2 separate regions of the Homo sapiens genome follow, and region 1 is linked to region 2. The links come from fine-mapping of genetic effects on gene expression. A gene starts in region 2. The other region holds a variant in brackets. All regions are shown on one strand. Distances are from middle to middle.

Region 1 (5,387 bases), 100 kb before region 2:
AGGACAGACCATAAGGAGAGTGTTTTAAGACTAAAATACTGATGAGTAGGTAAAGGGGTAGAATGTTTTCCCAGGGAACAATTCATCAGCCTCTGACATGATGTTTGTTTTGTAAATCTCTTTTTTCAGAACAGTGAACGATTTAAAGGGAGACTAAAACACTGAAAAAAAATGCCGTTCATATATTGTGTTCTTTTGAATTTTTATTTATATTTCTAACCTCTTTAGATCATTACAAGTATATACCTCATAATGAAAATGAAAATAATTCCATTTAAAATGCTATCTAGAAAGACCTTAACACGCATTATGTGTCATAATGAAGTAACACAAAGAAACTTCTTAAAACATAGGATTTCTCTCTAAAGCTTAAATGTGAGGCAGACAGACGTCTAACTTTAAAACAGATGGAACCCCAGAACATTTCCAGGATACATAAATCTGAATTTTGTGTTACATTTTATGCCTGAGACAGCTAACCCATCCAAATTGATGGTGAGGATTTCTGTACTCATTGTTTTTCCTATCTTTCCTTTCTAACATCCAAATTTAACAATTCAGTATTTCTTTTTCATAATCCTATGGATGACCATACCAGAATGTTTATGATTTTCATAATTTGCTCTGTGATCTGTAATCCTAAGTGTGTGCATATATTTAATCAACACATAATAATAAGTAATACCAATTCATGGAATCCAACATATGTACTCTGGCATAAAAAAAGAAACGCGAATTGCCACAAATAAAATGAGTTTATTTTATATTAAAGTTATCAAAAAACACACCTGTAAAATTACCCACATACTAGGCTTAGAGATAGCCTTTTACAAACAGATTATTAAAAATCTGCAAACTTATTTTCTCTTAACTATTAAAGTACATAGATTTAAAAGGTGTTAGAAGGCAAAATGTTAAGTCATGGTCAATGTCTTAAAAAAGAGTTAATATAATTAAATCTGTAGCATACTACAAAAAGATTAAATCTTAAAAATATTTTGGGAAAAAAGCTATAATTTTCTTTCTGAAAAATTTAATCTTAAGTGATATTTACTAAGAAATATATACTGCAAACCACAATAACAATGATCTTCTCAAAATTTGCCTAATTGCTTCACAAATGAGTCAACTTACAAAGAAGAAAACACAGAAAATTGCTTTTAAATATATAACTCCTTAATTTTCCTGATAATCAAATGAAAATTTAGTCCATCCCAATTAATACAAATTAGACTCATGCTTAATGTAAGATATCATTATATATTTCTTAACAACATAAAAGTTCAAGCATTTTTGGAAAGCACAGACTGTGTTATTCTAAAAAAGGAAAAAAAAGAAAAAAATATTTAACCACAGAAATTTGGAATATTTATATACTTTATAACACTGTAGAAATCTTTGGTGGTGACATATGGAATAAGATCCCTGAAAATACTTTAATCATTTTGTCCCATCAATCAGTGTAGTCAAGTATTTATAATCAGTAATTTTGGCAGTATAATTTTTTAGCCAAATACACACACACACACACACACACACACACACACACACACACACATATATATTGTGAAGTATGTGAGGGGGATCTTATGCAGGACCTAGGTGGGCTTACATAATTAATTATTTAGCAATAAGGCTTATTTCTGGCTCCTTTTTATACCAGGAAAAAATATGGTAAACTAACGAATGGGTCAATTCTTACTCCTAAACAAACTCTGGAAATAGTTAAATACTAATGGACAAGTTGAGTAAATGTACAGCAAAATAAAATACCAGCTGCAATTTCTGTATAAACTCAAACATCTACCAAAATAGTTCCCTAAATAGGTTTGTGCATCTAATCCCGTGCTCCATGTGCTGGCAGAGGAAAAAGCAAGGCACTGTGGTCTATGGATACATTTACCTCTTTTAAAACCAGTAGACTTAAAAGGAGAAACAAAAAAAGATCTGTTCTACCTTAAAAGAAACAAAAATGTACAGGCTAATTAGACAAAGTTCAAAGAAAAGGGCCCCGCTAAAACACATGTACAGGAAAAGAACCAAAATTTAAGAAATGTAGAAGAGAAAGAAGAGTAAAATGATATCAACAGTGTATAATGATGTAAGGAAAGATATCAGAGGAAGCACTGTGAATGTGAAAAAGTGCAGTTAAACAGGACTTGTACTACCTCTTTGAGACTATCTTTGATAAAGAATTTTGAGTCTAGAAGTACAGAGTAATAAATAATTTCTTCAATTTAGAACAGTAATATGAGTTTACTAAAGAATAGGTTTAATACTGGGACCAGACTTTAGAGAGATAAAATGGTGGCTGGGTGCGGTGGCTCACGCCTGTAATCCCAGAAGTTTGGGAGGCCGAGGCGGGCGGATCACGAGGTCAAGAGATGGAGACCATCCTGGGCAACATGGTTAAACCCTGTCTCTACTAAAAAGACAAAAATTAGCTGGGCGTGGTAGCACGGGCCTGTAGACCCAGTTACTCGGGAGGCCGAGGCAGGAGAATCGCTCGAACCCGGGAGGCAGAGGTTGTAGTGAGCCGAGATCGCGCCACTGCACTCCAGCCTGGTGACAGAGCAAGACTCCGTCTCAAAAAAAAAAAAAAAAAAAA[G/AAAAAG]GTAAAATGGTGCAAATCAGCTCCCACAGATAAAGTTCTTGACTCACATGACCTTATTAGGCAACTTCAGATGATACTGTCTTTGAGTAGGAAAGACAAGGACAGTGTAACAGTTATATTAAGAAGTCTAGTACCAGGTCATATAAATAAAACTCTGTTCCGATAATTTACAATTAGAATTCATAGAAATTTGGAATAGAAATTAGAGTCCTTCCAGAAATTAAGAGGCTAAAAATTAGGGTAAAGTAGATAGAGTTATTCAGAATTAAACGTTGGGAGAAGAAAACTGAATTAATTTTACTTGTTATATATGAAGAATGTGAAATAATCCATAAAATATTTTATGACTAGTATCATGAGACAATGTATGCATTATACCAAGGTACTCCTGTGTAAACATTATGTTCTTGGCCAATACTCTGAGGAAGTCCTGAATATACATTACCAGCTGGCTTCATTTCTTAAAAGGGAGACAGATCAAAGACCTCTCGAATCTCTCTCATCATTTTATCTTTTGGACAAACAAATAGAACAGTCAAGTAAATTACCTGAACAAGCATAATAAGTACAAATTTGATTACTGATCACTAAAACCACCAAAAATATATTGACTTAGGGTTCATAATGCATAGTTATCAGTTCAAGCTAAGAAAGCCTTAAGAATTCAATAACTCAAAATCTCTTTGAGATTTAAAGTTAAAAAGTAATATGTTTCTAATAATTTCTAATGTGCAGGATTAATGACAACTGTATTTTGCATTGGCAAATTATCTCAGCCAGAAGAGATTCAAATGATTTTCGTCAATGCCAGTTTATAAACTAGCAGCACATGTCAATGCCAAGCTTGTGAATGGATTGGCTGAGAAAAATTATATGAGTTAGAAGGGATCTAAGTGCTATACTGGTCACTGATTCTATTTCACAAAAGCTACCATTTTTAAAAGCTGAAAATGTAATTGGTGTTGACAAAAACATGTTAAGTTCAATTACTCTGTATAGCTAAATATAGAAAATTGGTTAATGTTTAAAGCAACTTCTTATTTGTTAAGAAGATAATTAAAAATAGTTAAAACTGAACAATTAGCTATACTTTTATATTATTAAAATCCAATGAATTTAACAAATGAAACCCACAGGAAAAGAGATGATATAATTCAAGGCATAGATTTGACATGTCAGAATACGGCAAAAACAATAAAGATAGCATCAGTAAAACAGTTGTAAAATAAGTAAACAATTTTCAAGTGTGCAAAACTAGTCAGGAATAAAAGTGCTATGTGTGGATACCTGGTTTTCAAATATTTGTTTCAAAAACTTTCAGCTGATGGTGGAAAAACTAGAAAGTATTATATAAGTAAAAATTTAAAGAATATATAAAACCTACTTTATTATCTTACATTATGTCCTTGTTATGTCACTGCTGAATCTGAGGCCTATTTAATTACCAGATACAACACAAAAGGAGGTAAACACAGTACATCACAAAGGCTGATTTATCCTGAACCGTAAAAAGGCTCCTTTCAAGTATACTGTGGATTTGTGTTTCATCTTATATCTCAGGCACTCTAGGCTGTTGATGAATTTGAAAACGGACAACATGATTTTCTATAATTTCTAATATACATATTTAGTACATCTTGCAGAACTGCCTTTAGTAGTCAATATTTGGAAGCAATTGTTACAGAAATAAAAACAATTTAAATTCATGAAAGTAAACCCCATCACTGCCACAATTTAAATAATCATTTTAATGTGTAAATCCTGAATATATCATGTTAGAAGATGAAGTCGATGTATTTAGCATAATCTGTCTTGGGATATTTGACGTGTAGATGACTAAAAATACACTTGTGGTCGTTTCTTCACTTTGTATTTTAGTGACCCGTACCGCACCTGAAGAGAGAAATGTTTTATTATTAAGAATTAGATGATTACTTTAAAAAATTACATCAGATTTAATAGTTCATAATCATAGTAATTTTTTTACCTTTTTGATATAAAGAATGAATTCTCTTAATAAATGTATATAAGACAGCACTACTTATAAACTCATAAAAAATGTAGTTGGTAATATTTAGATATATGTTACAGATTATTACTAATAACATAAAAACATTAATCCTATTATTTATGTTTTGCTTAGTACAATGTCAATGAACATTGATTATAATGATCAGAGGCCATTCACAGTCCTCCACTGCTTTCTGGGTATAAAGACAATATGTTATTATGGTTAACTGTTTACTATTTAATCTTCATGTAGCATTAGTTGAAAGCAAAACTGTGTGGTTAATTTTATTCATTGCTTTCTTTGTTTATGCATAGGGCTGGGACTGGGTATTTGAACTATGTGATTTGCTAAATGAGAATGCCATTTTCTACGTATAGCAGAAGATTAAGAGTTTACCATTTTCAAAATTTCCTGATATCCTGATACATTGATCTGAATAAAGAATTTTAAATATAAACTGCTGGCCAGGTGAGGTGGCTCACGCCTGGAATCCCAGCACTTCGAGAGGCGGAGGCGAGAGGATTGCTTGAGGCCAGGTGTTCAAGACCAGCCTGGGCAACATGGTGAAACCCTGTCTCTACAAAAAATGAAAAAATTAGCCAGGTGCGGTGGCATGTGCCTGTAGTTCCAGCTACTTGGGAGATTGAGGTGGGAGGACTGCTTGAGCCCAGGAGTTTGAGTGAACTGTGATTACGCCACACTGCACTCCAATTTGGTTGACAAAGCAAAAAAGCTCTATCCCCAAAAACTAAAAAAAAAAAAAAAAAA
Region 2 (5,387 bases):
ATCATTTCACAGAAGGGCAGAGAATCTTCCAAAGCAAAGCTGTTGCTGCCTTATAACATTTACCCCTTCTTTCTTGAAAACAGGCCCCAGGCTACCTTTCCAGCTTGCTTTTTCCCCACCCGAGTCCCTCACGCCCACTGTAACTAATCTGGGCTTTTCCTCCTCTGGGCTTTGGCTCACGCCGGTCCCTATATCTGGAATCCTTTCCTTTTTCATCTTTGGCTGCCTAGATTCTGTCCATTCTTTTTTGTTTTTTTTCTGAGGCACAGTCTCACTCTGTGGCCCAGGCTGGAGTGCAGTGGCACGATCACGGCTCACTGCAGCCTTGACCTCCTGAATTTGAGCGATCCTCCTACCTCAGTCCCTGAGTAGCTGGGATTACAGGTGTGAGCTACTGTGACTAGCTAATTAAATTTTTCTTTTTTTGTGGAGACAAGGTCTCGCTATGTTGCCCAGGCTGGTCTCTAACTCTTGTGATCAAACAATCTTCCCTCCTTGGCCTCCCAAAGTGCTAGGATTACAGGTGTGAGCCACTCTACTGGGCCTATTCTTTAAGGCCCATCTGAAACGTAATCTCCCTTGCCTTTTCTGATTCTCCAACCAGATATCCCTTCCTTGTCCAACACTGGGTATTAGAGTGGGTGTAACTTTTACAAGAGTTGACATTTGGACCTGTACTGCAGATATCTGTGCACCCAAACTGTCAATTCCCATGATCAACTACGTGTTACTGACCTTTGTGTTATAGGTAGCACCTAGAACAGACATTCATATTCATTGGCAATTATGAAAAACAAAAGTCTAAAAGTGCTTCACAATTTTCTGTCAGCTGAAGAACTGGTCAAAGAAATCCAGAGGCTTTTTTTTTTTTTTTTGTAAAGTACAGCTTCTTAATAGGGCACTTGATTTTCTAGGTGTGGACACAACAGTTGATAGACATCTACTAGGTCAAGAAAGGTATGCCTGAATTAGATAAATGACAGACTCAAAAGAGAGGCCAGGAAAAGGCTGAAAAACAATCTGAAGGCATCTGTGGTATCCTTTTGTTTATATCTTGATTTTTAGTTTCGTACAGGGGAACACAGGAAGCTCTGAGGCTTTAAAACTAGAAACTTTGCGATTTAATCAAATGAAAAATTTTGAATGCTGTGCTGCAAATCTGATTAAATAGGGCTAGTAATTCACTTCCAAACAAAATAAACCCCAAACTCAGAAAATCTAGCTCCTTTTAACAAAAAGTCTGGTAATGTTATTTTTCCTAAATTCTAAAGCTTATCAGAGAAGCCTGCCCCCTCACATAAACATTTTTTCATATACCTTTATGAAACCTTCTGAGATAACACTACTACAGAGGTGAATAATGAATTCATAGGCCCTAGCTGTAACTACGTCATTGTTTACTTGGTGACTTTTTTTTTAATCGGGGAGAGGGGTAAAATGGAGATGAGAGAAAATCAGTTTAAACTGTATTCAAATACATTTACACGATTAACACCACCAACTCAAGGAATTTCTTTTTCTTACAGACCTGTAGCACTTGTTGGTAGGAGAACAATGAAATGAACCCATAATTTGAACAAAGGCAACAGGCACCTGCAGCCTTTCAATCACTTAGCAAATATTTCCGCCGAGACAGGGCCGAATTCGGGGATCTGGGCGAGCAGCCGGTGTCACCTTTCTCGGTAAGCTGCAAATCTTGGGAAAACTAGGACCCTTCCCAGGGATCCTGGGCTGGGAGCGGTCTCCGGTTTTTAGACAAATCTCTCCTCCTACCACACGTGACCGAATGGCAATCAGCCGCCAAGAGAGACACCGCAACGCATCAGCCGCGGGATACAAAGGCTCGGCACTGCCGTCGCATCCTCGGGAGGATCGCGGAGCCTCCCGCGCTCGGCGTCTGCGGAGCCTGCGCAGGGAGCAGCTGCGAGGCGCGCCGCTCCCGGGCCCGCAGGGCGGTGCCGCGCTGCGCGGGGAGCAGGAGCGGGGAGCGCGCGCCGCCTGCCCTGAGCGCCTGCCCACCCAGCGCCGCCGGAGCAGGGGCGCCGCGCCGCACCGCACGCAGCCGAGCAGCGCCACAGCCGCCGCCGCCGTCGCAGCCGCAGTCGCCGCAGCTAGGCCCTCGGCCGTCGCAGGGAGCTCCGCAGCGACGTGGACCAAGGTGAGGAAGCCGAGGGCTCCCCCAGACCCTCGGCAGGCCCGAGGCCGGGCTACCCCGTCCCCGCCCAGGCCCAGGCCTTCCCTTTCCTCTCGGCTCCTTCCCCTTCCCACAGCTCCCCTGGGCCTCGCGCCGGCTGCAGGGCGCAGTGAGAGGCACTTACACCACGGCTCTGGAGATCATCCAGGACACCATCTTCACGGGGGCTTGGGCCCCACGTCCGGGGCGGGTGGGCGCAGGGCGCTGCGGACCAGGCCGCCAACGGCAGGCCGCGCGCTTCGCCGGCTCCTCGCGCTCCCCGGGGCCGCGCTGGCGCCCTCAGGAGCCGGGCCCGGTGTGTGCGCGCGGCGGCCTGGGCTGCGCAGAGGTCGGTCCCCCGCCCGTCCCCGCCCGCCCCCGCCCGCCGGCCCGGCAGCCTAGTCCGGACAGCACCCCGCCCCTGCGCTCCGCTGATAGGCGGTGGCGGCGGCGCGTTGGCCCGGGCCAGGGCTGGGGCCAGGCGGCCGGGCTCCAGGGCTGGGCTGGCGGGATCCTAGCCCGCGCTGGACGGCCTCGCTGCCGCGGCCTTGGCCCCTGCGCTCTAACCAACCTTACCCTCCTTAGCTCTTTGGGACGCCCACACTCGCGGCGAGAGTGGGGCAGGAGGCTGAGGAAGGGTACTGGAGGGTAGGGATTGGCAGTGCCTGTGTGAAAAGTGAGATATTCGCAGGAACTCGGTGTCCAATAAAACTCTCGACCAGGCCCTGGTTTTGGAGAGCCAAGACTTTGAGGTGTGCCTGGCCACATCCGGTATCCTCAGTGTTTACGGAGGCCCAGCACCAAAGGCGTCCTTATATTACCACATTTTAAAGGAATCGTCGAGAGGTTCTTGCACAGGCCTCCGTGTGTGCCACGAGTCTCGTGGTGCAATGCAGGGAGGGACAGAGGAGGATTTCATGTTTGCAGTAGTGGGTGCAGTGATACCACTGTTCTGGGCCTCTTAGGGCACCTTTTCATCAGAGCATCTGCAAAGACTGTTTACAGACACGAATCTCCATTATTTCCCTGAGGCCTGCCAGATGTTCAAAGTAAAGGCTGGGTCTAGGATTCCTGACCTGTCTTAAGATTTACAACTATATTACAGCTGTAAGATTTACAACTGTATTTTTTGGAGGTTGGGTTACTGCTTACACCTTGCTGTTCTTGCAAATATCATTTCAAGGGCAGACTTTTAAAACTGTTTTTTTTTTTTTTTTGTGACAGTACCAAATTGAGAAAATGATGTTAAAGTTTAGATATTTTTATTTTTTCCAGTTAAGACGATAGTAAAAGATAATTCTAGTATTCAGATGGTGCGAAGAATAAAAGATGAAATGTAGGCTTGGAGCCTTTAATTAAAGTCCTAGAAAATATGATGGCTTTTGTGACCATACTGTAATTTTGTCTTCTTGTTCCTCAGTTTCCCTGTGATAAAAAGGGGGTAATAATACTGTAGTCTGTCTCTTGCCTTTCAAGGGTGATATGAGGCACTGCTAAATAATATGTTTAGGAAATACTCTGACTTGCATGGAAGACAATCAAAGGACACAACAGATTATCCTAAATTATTTTCAGTTCTCAGTCAATAAATTGGGTAATATTTCATTATTTAAGAAACAAGCTCAGAAGCTACTTTCTACTCTTGGGTTAGGTTCTTTTCGCTTATTAATTCATGTCAAGACTTTTTATTTCAGGAATTTGAGTAATAATTTGCATTTAACTCTGAATCTTTTATTTTTGGCCATTATTCAGCATTATTTGAGGATCAGGTGTGCTGCATAAGCACCAGTTTTTTGGCGAACTCTCTTGTTCAATAAAACTCAAATGAATTTGAATATCATTCAGATCCCTTCATGAAAGGTCCTGAAATAGCTTTACAGCCTTTACTTTTACTACTTTCACCCCCAACTCCTAATGTACCCGTTCCCTACCTCTCTTCTTTCAGCCAACCTGTATTTTCATGCTCAGTGCTTTTGCCCAGATTTCGTTTTTCCCTTAACACTTTGCTCCCCATTCTGTACCTATCAGAACTCTCATTTTTCAGTGGCCTGTGCCATGAAGACATCCTTGGTTTTCCTCAGGGACAATTATTCCTAATTTTGTCTGTGCTCTCATAATTTATTACTTGAATTTCTATTTCTTATCTGTGTCATTCTGCCTCTACCATGTCTAATGTACTGAATGGTAAAATGTTTGAGAACAGACATGGTGTATTAGATTTCTTTGTGTTTTCCAACTATCTAGCCTCAGATAGGGTAAACGTCCAATAAAAATTTGAATAATGTTTGTGAAATACAGTCACTCTTTAGGCATCAGATTTAAAAAATTTCAGCCACGTACATTGGAAGTCTCTTAAAAATGTCTTTCTTGCCTTTTTACTTTGGAGGTCATCATTGTGAATATTAATTATTTCAGCTAATCCTAGTACATTAATGCCTTCAGGGGTTGCTGAAGGCAACCTAGGTAGGATGGCTGGCTGCTCTCTGAAATGTCCCTAGACTGCTGTGCGTTAAGTTTCATTTTGTATGCTTATTATATCTTCTGCCTCTTCCACATTTAGATTACTTTTTGCTGCTTTCTTTCTATTTACCTGGAACAGTGCCTTTTTTCACATCTCAATAGGCCATGGGTTGGAAACCACCTACTATGTGCTATACACGTGTCATTGAGTCATTCTGACAACTTAAAAAGCCATATAGCGTTTATTCCCTTTTGGTACCATGGAAAGTGAGGTTTAGAGAAGTTAACTCAACTGGCGGGTGATCACATAGGTCATTGGTAACAGAACTGGAGATCTAATTCATGCTTCCCAAGCTTGTTTACATTATACTGGGATAGATAGCGGAACTGTGTTTAAGGCGGTGGGTCCAGCTTGGTGTTGCCCTCCAAGGGGAAACTGGAAGGCATTTTTTAGATTGTTGTAATGATTGGAGCTAACAACTTGCATTTGTTGAGTGAAGGCTAGAGAGGTGTGGGACAGTCCTGAACAAAGTGTCCCCATGTCTTGCATGATTTAAGAATATCTGCCTGACTTTCATGTAGTATTTGTAATTATCAAAGCCTGGAACCTCCATCTTGCATCATGATTTTAACTGAGACTGAATTTTAACTGAGTCTGTTTCCACATGCAACGGTTATGTGAATTGAAGGAAGATTGTTTTGTTCACAACTTGACCAAGAATTGTTTACAGTTTTGGAAAATTGTATCACAAAC

Alleles and levels. Alleles are on the strand shown, and positions count from the first base shown. SD is a standard deviation of normalised expression in the study named.
For the expression in monocytes of the gene that starts at base 2,495 in region 2, G is the high allele of the variant in region 1 and AAAAAG is the other (moderate effect, 0.55 SD a copy in CEDAR).

Evidence for each region. PIP is the estimated chance that this variant, and not a neighbour inherited with it, causes the effect.
Region 1: its variant is the best candidate, but not a certain one, in a credible set for the expression of REEP3 in monocytes (CEDAR, PIP 0.87).

The regions. Positions count from the first base shown.
Region 1 is chr10:63,619,927-63,625,313 of GRCh38, reverse strand. It overlaps REEP3 (receptor accessory protein 3), which reads right to left. Exons shown (of 8, transcript NM_001001330.3): 8 at 186-4,501. The coding sequence ends at 4,445. LOC105378329 (a long non-coding RNA gene) reads left to right here and starts at 201. Exons shown (of 4, transcript XR_001747467.3): 1 at 201-495. The variant G/AAAAAG (reference allele first, on the strand shown) is at 2,609.
Region 2 is chr10:63,518,509-63,523,895 of GRCh38, reverse strand. REEP3 (receptor accessory protein 3) reads right to left here and starts at 2,495. Exons shown (of 8, transcript NM_001001330.3): 1 at 2,319-2,495. The coding sequence starts at 2,350. It also overlaps a transcript of JMJD1C not described here. RefSeq lists a silencer at 1,810-2,859 and an enhancer at 3,250-3,299.